Linked DNA regions of Homo sapiens: region 2 is linked to region 1. The links come from fine-mapping of genetic effects on gene expression. Tissue or cell type: cerebellar hemisphere. Region 1 holds a variant in brackets; the other region holds the start of a gene. All regions are shown on one strand. Distances are from middle to middle.

Region 1 (5,115 bases):
TAGTTTACGTTAGGATTCACTCTTGGTGTTATGTTTCTATGGGTTTTGTTAAATGTATGATGATGTTTATCAGTGTCTACTGCTGTAGTATCATTCAGAATCATTTCATTGCCCTAAAAATCTTCCATTGCCCTCCCTCCTCAACCCCGGCAACCACTGATCTTTTAACTGTCCCCATAGTTTTGCCTTTTCAGGAATGTCATATAGTTGGAATTATATAGTATGTAGCCTTTTCAGATTGGTTTCTTTCACTTAGTAGCGTGCATTCAAGTTGCCTCAATGTTTCATGGCTTGATAACTTGATAACTTATTTAGCTCTGAATAATATTTCTTGATAAGGATATACCACAGTTTATATCCATTCACCTACTAAAAACATTTTGGTTATTTCCAATTTTTGGCAATTACGAACAAAGCTGCTATAAACATCCATGTGCTGGTTTTTGTGTGGAGTTGCCAATTCCGTTGGATAAACACTGAGGAGTGTGATTGTTGGATCTTTAGGTAAGAATATGTGTAGTTTTGTAAGAAACTGCCAAACTGTCTTCCAATATTTGCATTCCTACCAGCAATAAATGTTGTCCTGTTGTTCCACATCCTTACCAGCATTTGGAGTTGTCAGTGTTTTGTATTTTGGCCATTCTAATACTTGTTTTAATTTGTAACTCTCTTATGAAATATGATGAACATCTTTATATATGTTCACTTTCCATATATATATGGAACAGACTATTTACATATATATCTATCTTCTTTGATTAGGGGTCTGTTCAGGTTTTTATCCACTTTTTAATAAGGTTGTTATTTTTCTATTGTTGAGTTTGAAGAGTTCTTCGTATATTTCATATAACAGTCCTTTATTATATATTTCTTATTTTCTAATATATGTGTCCAATTCAATAAATTTTCTTTTAAGCACTGCTTTTGCTGCATATTACACATTTTGATGTTTTATTTTAATTTTCATTTAGTTCAAAATGTTTTAAAATTTCTCTTAAGATTTCTTCTTTGACCCATATATTATTTGGAAGTATGTTGTTTAATCTCCAAGTACATTGGATTTCAGACATCTTTCTGTTATTCATTTTAGTTTAATTCCATTGTGATCTGAGAGTAGAAGTTGTATGATTTCTCATTTTTTAAATTTGTTAGGGTGTGTTTTATGTTCCACAGAAGTACTGTCATTCCCCTCATAATGACGTTTCAGTCAACAAAGGACCACATGTATGACAGTGGTCCCATCAGATTATAATGGAGCTGAAAAATTCCTATCACTTAGTGATGTTGTAATATCATAGCATAACACATTACTTTTCTATGTTTAGGTATGTTTAGACACACAAATACTTATCATTGTCTTACAGTTGCCTACAGTGTTCTGTACAGTAATATGCTCTATGGATTTGTAGCCCAGGAGCAATAGGCTACACCATTATAACATAGGGGCATAGTAGGCTGTACCATCTATGTTTGCATAAGTATACTCTATGATGTTTGCACAATGATGAAATTGCCTGACGATGCGTTTCTCAGAACATATTCCCATTGTTACGTGACGCATGACTGTAGTCTATAGATGTCAATTATATCCCGTTGATTGATGGTGATGTTGAGTTCAACTATACCCTTACTAATTTTCTGCCTGCTGGATTTGTCCACTTCTGATAGATAGGTGTTAAGGTTTCCAACTACAATAGCAGACTCATCTATTTCTCTTGCATTTCTACCAGTTTTTGCCTCAGGTATTTGACATTTGGTTGTTAGACACATACACATTAAAGATCGTTATGTCTTTGTGATGTATTGATCCTTTTATCATTATGCAGTGCCCCTTTTTATCCCTAATATCTTTCGTTGCTCTGAAGCCTGCTCCTTCTGAAGTTAATATAGCAACTCCTCCTTCTTTTGATTAGTGTTAGCCTGGTTTATCTTTCTCTATTTACTTCTAATCTACATGTTTCTTTATATTTTAAGTGGGTTTCTTATAGGCAACATGAAGTTGGGTCCTTTTTTCTATCCACTCTGAGGATCTTTGTCTTTTAATTAGTGTAGGTAGACCATTGACATTTAAAGTGATTATATCTACCATATTTATTACCATTTTCTATTAATTTCTCTTGTTCTTTGTTTCTATTTTTATCTTCCTCTCTTTTCTACCTCTTATGGCTTTAATTGAGCATTTTATATAATTCTATTTGCCCCTTCTTAGCATATACATTATACTTTTATCAGATAACATTGTACCAATTCATGGATAGTGTGAATAACTATTTTTGTTTGTTTTTGAGAAAGGGTCTCGTTCTGTCACCCAGGCTGGAGTTCAGTGGTGCAACCATGGCTCACTATAACCTCCACCAACCTCCCAGGCTCAATCAATCCTCCTGCCTCAGCC[T/G]CCCAAGTACCTGGGACTGCAGGCATGCATCACCATGCCTGGCTAATTTTTGAATTTTAATCTCTTATAATAACAAAATACTTGTAATTCCTCCCTCCCGCATCTTGTATCACGGCTGTCTTTTTTTTTTTTTTTTTTTTTTGAGATGGAATCTTGCTCTGTAGCCCAGGCTGGAGTGCAGTGGTGCAATCTCAGCTCACTGCAAGCTCAGCCTCCCGGGTTCATGCCATTCTCCTGCCTCAGCTTCCCGAGTAGCTGGGAGTACAGGTGCCCACCACCACACCCGGCTAATTTTTTGTATTTTTAGTAGAAATGGGGTTTCACCATGTTAGCCAGGATGGTCTCGATCTCCTGACCTCGTGATCCGCCCGCCTCGGCTTCCCAAAGTGCTGGGATTACAGGCGTGAGCCACCGCGCCCGACCCACTGCTGTCATTTTACTTATATATTGGCATATAGTTGAACACATTGTTGCTGTTATTATTTTGAACTGACTGTTAGATCAATTAAGAATAAGAAAAATAGGCTGGACAAGTTGGCTCACGCCTGTAATCCCAGCATTTGGGAGGCCGAGGCAGGCGGAACACGAGGTCAAAAGATGGAGACCATCCTGGCCAACATGGTGAAACCCTGTCTCTACTAAAAATACAAAAACAGATTAGCTGAGCATGGTGGCGAACGCCTGTAGTCTCAGCTACTCAAGAGGCTGAGGCGGGAGAATCGCTTGAATCCAGGAGGCGGAGGTTGCAGTGAGCCGAGATCGCACCAGGGCACTCCAGCCTGGCGACAGAGCGAGACTCCATCTCAAAAAAAAAAAAAAAAAAAAAAAAAAGGAAGAAGAAGAAAAAAAGAATAAGAAAATAAAATGTTTGTTTTCCTTTCACTTAATTCTTCTCTGAAGTTCTTCTTTTCTTCACGTAGGTCCAAGTTTCTGACTTATATTATTTTCCTTCTCTCCGAAGAACTTATTTTTAACATTTCTTGCAAGACATGTCTGCTGACAACAGATTCCCTTAGTTTTTGTTTCTCTGAGAGAGGCTTTATTTCTCTTTCACTTTTAAAAGATGATAATTTTTCAGGGTAAAGAATTCTAGTTTGGCAGTTTTTTCTCTCAACACTCAACAATTTATTTTACTCTTGCGTGCCGGGTTTCTGAGGAAACGTTGGATATAATTCTTATTTTTGCTTCTCTGTAGGTAAGGGGCAGCTGATCCCTGAACAATATGGGTTTGAACTGCACGGGTCCACTTATACACAAATTTTTTCCAATAAATATATTGGACAATTTTTTGGAGGTTTGCAACAATTTGAAGAAACTTGCAGATGAATTATGTAGCCTAGAAATATTTTTAAAATTAAGAAAAAGTTAGGCATGGTATGAATGCATAAAATATATGTAGATACTAGTATATTTTGTCATGTATTACTATAAAATATACATATATTATAAAAAATTAAAATTTATCAAAACTTACATAGACTGTACACGGTGTCATTTTTAGTCAAGAGAAATGTAAGCAAATGAAAAGATACAGTATTAAATTATAACTACATACAATTAATTGTAGCACATCCTATACTACTGTAATAATTTCAATGCCATTCCCTGTTGCTGTCATGGTGAGCACAAGTGCTGCGTGTGTCCACTTAAAACATCATGTGATGCTAATCATCTCTACGTGAGCAGTTTACCTCTCCAGTAAATTGTGTATCACAGTAAAAAAGTGATCTTTTGTGGTTCTCACATATTTTTCATTTTGTTGAGTGCATACCGTAAATCTTGAATAATACCATGGGACCCATACAAAGTGCCACTAGTGATACTGGAAGTATCCCCAAGAAGCACAGAGAGGTCATGACATTACAAAACAGTTGAATTGCTTGATATAAGATTGAGGTCTGCCGCTGTGTTTGCCCACTGCTTCAGACAGATAATTCATCTTATAAACAGATAACATAAACTTATGGTATTAATAAATACAGTACAATAATGTACTGTAAATGTATATTAAATGTGTTTTCTCTATCTTATGGTATTCTTAGTAACATTTTATTTTCTCTAGCTTATTTGTAAGAATACAGTATATAATATATACCACATACAAAATACATGTTAATCAACTGTTTATGTTATCAGTAAGGCTTCCAGTCAATAGTAGGCTATTTCAAATCCATGTTCATTAACCCAGAAATCATACCAAAAACAATGTCATCAATATCATACCCTGTCCCTATCCTCTATAGGAGAAATAAACTCCCCTTTCCCTGAAAATAAAAATCTAATCTGCTGAAAATTAAATGATAGGTTTTGTACCATAGTGGTAGTATCAAGGGGTGAAACATACATTGACATATCAGTCAATATACCTGTCCCCCTGCATTGTAATTATTTGCTGATTGCCTGTCTTTCCTGTGAGACTGTCAGCTTCTGAAGGACAGAGACAAGGCTTGTTTGATAACTCTCTGGCACATAATAGGCGTTTCGATATACACATGTTGAATGTATCATTGCTTCATCAGATGTGTTAAGTGTGAACCAACCTCACTAAGTTATTAAGCACCTACTTGGGATAAGGCTGCAGGTTGGATACTTTGGATATATAAAGATGAGTAAAGTTTGTTCTCTGCCTTCAAAGGCAATCATTATAGCAGGATGTCCTTGTCAAGTTCCTATCCCCTTGACCACCCCCTTCCCTTCACAGGTGGGAAGTCCCCTAGAGGCTA
Region 2 (4,557 bases), 360 kb before region 1:
AGCCAGGTACAAAAGAATATTTACTGAGTCATTCCATATATACAAAGTTAAAAGACAGGTAAATGTAATTTGTGTTAAAAGTCAGGATGCTGGTTACCTTTAGAAAGGAGTGAAGGGGCAGTAATTAGGAGGCAAGGAGGATGCTTCTGGGGTGTGAGTCACAGTTAAATGCACCATGTGATAATTCATTGAGCGGTACATTGACCTGTGCACTTTTCTACATCTGTTAAATTTAAACAGAAAAGTTTTTAAACATCTAGGCACCAACCTAAAAAATCTATATAACCATCTCCTTTTCGAAAATAACCAATTTCTTACAAACTTTGCAAATTAAACTGATTTGAACACACTGAAAATAAAAGAAAATGAATGATTTGTGAAATGGCTTAAAAATGAACATTAAAAAAACAAAGTTTCAAACCGCATCTTAGTTAAGGTGGTAAAGAATACAATAAACAGGACACAAACCTAAAATAATTCTTATATTCTATGTTAAGTTAATTTTAAAAATGCTATACCTGTACATCTAGTCGCCATTCAAGGTTATGATAACTGGGAAGGCTTGGTGCCAATTCACTCAGAATCGTTCTGATCTCTTTTCTGTTGTCCAGATAAAGCTGAAGCAACAATTTGTTTAATTCTTCAGAGAATCCCAGAACAAAAACAGAGTCTTGGAAATCCAGTTCAGAAATCTAAGTGAATTGAGTTTAAAAGAACATCAAAATTTATCTTTGTCTAGCTAAAATAATTGAAATACACAAAAGAATATGATATCCTCTAATTTATTCTGTCTAGTAAAAGAAACAGCATTCCTTAACCACTGACCACCATTCCAAAATCTGTGTTACCAATACATAAAAGTACTTTACTAAAGTATAAAATGGAAAAAATTGTTAAGATGCCCAGTTTCCCTTCCTGTCCTTCATCAAGCCAGATACTGCTGATACGCAAACAAAATACTGATACAGTCTCCCTCCTCTTATGTATCTTCTTAAGATACATATATGGTTTAACAACATGCAGAATTAGAGGTACTTCTATACTAGCTATTTATACTAGCAAGAGGTATTCATATCAGCAGATGATATGATTTTTATTTTTTAGGTATGTCTTCAAAAAATCAATTATAAACCATTAACAACATTATTAAAACACACAGGTACCTGCCAGGACTATGATGTAGAGTACACCAGACCGTTCTTAAGAATCCAGCCAACACAAAACAGTCCAGAAAATCCCTTACCATGAGCTTTGAGCTCTCAGTGAGGAGATACGTTAATCCTTCCACACCATGCTGGACAGTGTCACTACTCACATTGAGTTTTCCTGAGAAAGAAAAGTAAAAACGAGCAAATAAATTACTACTGTAGTATTTATCTTGTTCATATTTGTATTTAAAAATAAACACTATTCATTATTACATGTTTTCAAACACTGCATGAAAAACAGTAAGTTGGCCAGAGGCTCCTGCTCCTTGTCATTCCACTCCCAGCCAAATGCCTTTGGTATTTCCCACCAAGTAACCTTAACAAAATGCAGAACTGTGGAGACTAGTATCAGGTGCGTAGCCCTTCTCTTGAATACGTAGCTCCTTCAAGTCTGGCAGAAGAGGAACTCGACAGGGATTGACTTAATCCCAGAGACTGCCTCTTACCCAGGGGTAAAACAACACTTTTTTTTTTTTTTTTAGCAAAAGCGGATATCTGAACAACTAATAATGATAACCAAATACTTGCAATTTACAGTTGACCCAGCTATTCCACAGACTTTGGTATATTTATACAAAACACTTTTCAGTATTTCTGAAAGTAAGGTGGTATTATGTACATTTTACCATGAGAAAACTGATTTAATAGAAGCTTTAACAATCTCACAGCTACTTAAGGGACGGGCAGGATTTGCACCCTGACTGAAGAGCTCTGCTGGTTTTATTCTACTACAATCGGAACAAGACCCTAGGACTCGCAATAATCCGTTTCTCTCCCGGGAGACAGGGAATGGCTCGCAACCGCCCTAGAAGCCTGCGGAGCCTTCCCCTTTCCCTTCTTACTGGCGGCGCCTTCGTAGATTTTTGGGTTTGCGCCGCGTCTCAGGAATTCCACAGCAATCCGCCCAAACTCGGCGACCACTGCAATGAAAGTCAGAAGGCTGTTGAGTGCCAGGCGCTGCCTTTGACCTCCTCCCCAGCCCACAGAACACCGCCCCCACGCCCGCTGACCCGCGCTGTCCACTTGAGGCAGGAAGGCCAGGTGTTCCTTATGCTCCTCGGACAATTCCAGCAGCATCTTCACTGTCCTACGATTTCACCCGGCAGCGCCGACCCCGCCTTCGCCACTTCCGGCGCCCGTGTCCCGGCGCCTAGAGGCTCCGGCGTCGCAGCGTCCGGAGCTTTGGGTTCCGGCCTACGAACTAACGCGTTACACTCGGACGTTCCCTGCAGCGCAGGCTGAGGTCAGAACATTGAAATCATCCCGCAAAGATGCAGTGAGCGCCTGCTGGGTGCAAGGTGCTAGGCTCTATGGGAGATGAAAAGGTGTTTCAAATCCGACACGCCCCCTCGTGGAGCATACATTAATAATATCAATAGTTCACATTTGTTAAGCACTAACCGTGTCAGGAAGTGTTCTTACATTTATTAAATACATTTGGAGTTCAGAAGAACCCTATGAGGTAGGTTCCATTATAATTTCCATTAGAGATAAGGAAACTGATAGACAAGTCCAGCAACTGACACTTTTATAAAGCTAATAGTTTCCAGAGCTTCTATGTTATCTTAAATGTATCTCAGTTAATATCCTCAACAAACATGGCTTTGTTTTTACAGATAAGACACAAAGCTCCAGAGATTATGTGACAAAGCCTGTGACAGAGTTAGATGGAGAGGGTTGGATCCCTCACTTACCTGCTGCAAAGCCCATCCTTCTACATAACAGCCTGAAAGCTGAAAGCTTCTGACAAGTTTTATGAGTGATTATAAATTAGGATAAAGATAATGATGACAATGACCGATGCTTACAGGATTCAGAGCAATGTTTTTGTTTGTTTGTTTTGTTTTGTTTTGTTTTTTACATGGAGTCTCGCTCTGTCGCCCGGCTCACTGCAACCTCTGCCTCCCGGGTTCAAGCGATTCTCCTGCCTCAGCCTCCCGAGTAGCTGGTATTACAAGCGCCCACCACCATGCCTGGCTAATGTTTGTATTTTTAGTAGAGACGGGTTTTCACCATGTTGGCCAGGCTGGTCTTGAACTCCTGACCTCAAGTCATCCAGCCAACTTGGCCTCCCAAAGTGCTGGGATTACAAGCATGAACCACCACACCTGGCCCAGAGCAATGCCTTTTAAAAAGTATTTAGCGCCTGTGATAATTTAGTTCCTTTTCCAACTCTCTTCTCACCTGCTGTGGTTCAAATATCAGAGATGATAAAGTTGCTAATTGATAGGAATATGATTCTTCAAATCTTAACCCCTTGAAAATGGAGGGTGTGGAGGAAGAGAGGGGAAGGGAAGAAGACTCTTCATATCTGTCTTTTCTATCTAAGGCTTGAGACAACTCTATATTCTGAGTCTCCCAGGCAGACTAAAAATTGGAAGAGTTTTTCAATTCACTTCTCTGTGTCTACTTTGTCCTTCACATCTGACTGAAATTGTTTCTTCCACTGGGACACAGAAAGACAGGTCCTTGAACTTATTAGTTAGTTCTTGAAGTAGCATTTGCAGAGAGAACACAACTTTTACTTAGACTGTGAATTGCAGATTAGCAAAAATTGCATCATTTCCTGAAGTTGCCTTTATTCACACATTATTGAGAAAACATCCATTATTAAAGAATAATTTTCAGAAAAGGTAAAATCATGATTCTTCTACAAGTGTACAATGAACACATGTCAAAAAATGTATTGAACTAGTTAATTAATGAGAGAATTACAGCATTCTGTAATTAATGAGAGATTACAGTAAAAACCAGTTTCAACTGATTCAAAAGAGGTATTCAAGAACTGTACATATATAGGGAGTAGGAATGCTGAAATGAATTTGCAAATAGACACAATATTATGCCAATATGAAATGGCCTTTCTTGTCTGTAATCTCAGGGAATGAAGTGAGGACAGGCGAGGTGAAGGTGAGACTAGGGAGTAGCACAATAGGCTGTCTAAAAAAGGTGGTCAAGGAACCAAGTTAGGCCAGGTATGGTGGCTGATGCCTGTAAACCCAGCACTTTGGAAGGCCAAGGCGGGAGGATCACTTGAGGCCAGAAATTCAAGTCTAGCCTGACCAACATGGTAAAACCCCATCTCTACTAAAAATACAAAAATTAGCAAAGCTTGGTGGCATGTACCTGTGGTCCCAGCTACTTGGTAGCCCAAGGCATGAAAATTGCTTGAACCTGCGAGGCAGAGGTTGCAGTGAGCAAGATTTGAGTCACTGCACTCCAGCCTGGGTGACAGAGTCAGACACTGTCAAAAAAAAAAAAAAGAAAGAAACCAAGTTATATCCAAGAAAAACCAGCCTGGGAGTTAAAACACCCCAGGATAATTTATAGAGTGACTTCTGTTGCCATA

What was found. PIP is the estimated chance that this variant, and not a neighbour inherited with it, causes the effect.
Region 2: COMMD2 starts here. The variant in region 1 is fine-mapped to the expression of COMMD2 in cerebellar hemisphere (GTEx, PIP 0.96).

What each region holds. Positions count from the first base shown.
Region 1 is chr3:150,108,798-150,113,912 of GRCh38, forward strand. The region is part of intron 1 of LOC105374313 (a long non-coding RNA gene); the gene reads left to right. Among named protein-coding and RNA genes, the nearest start is that of LINC01998, 30 kb to the left of the region's middle. The variant T/G (reference allele first, on the strand shown) is at 2,393.
Region 2 is chr3:149,750,160-149,754,716 of GRCh38, forward strand. COMMD2 (COMM domain containing 2) reads right to left here and starts at 2,330. Exons shown (of 5, transcript NM_016094.4): 1 at 2,219-2,330; 2 at 2,051-2,128; 3 at 1,244-1,326; 4 at 519-692. The coding sequence starts at 2,285. RefSeq lists a silencer at 2,486-2,555.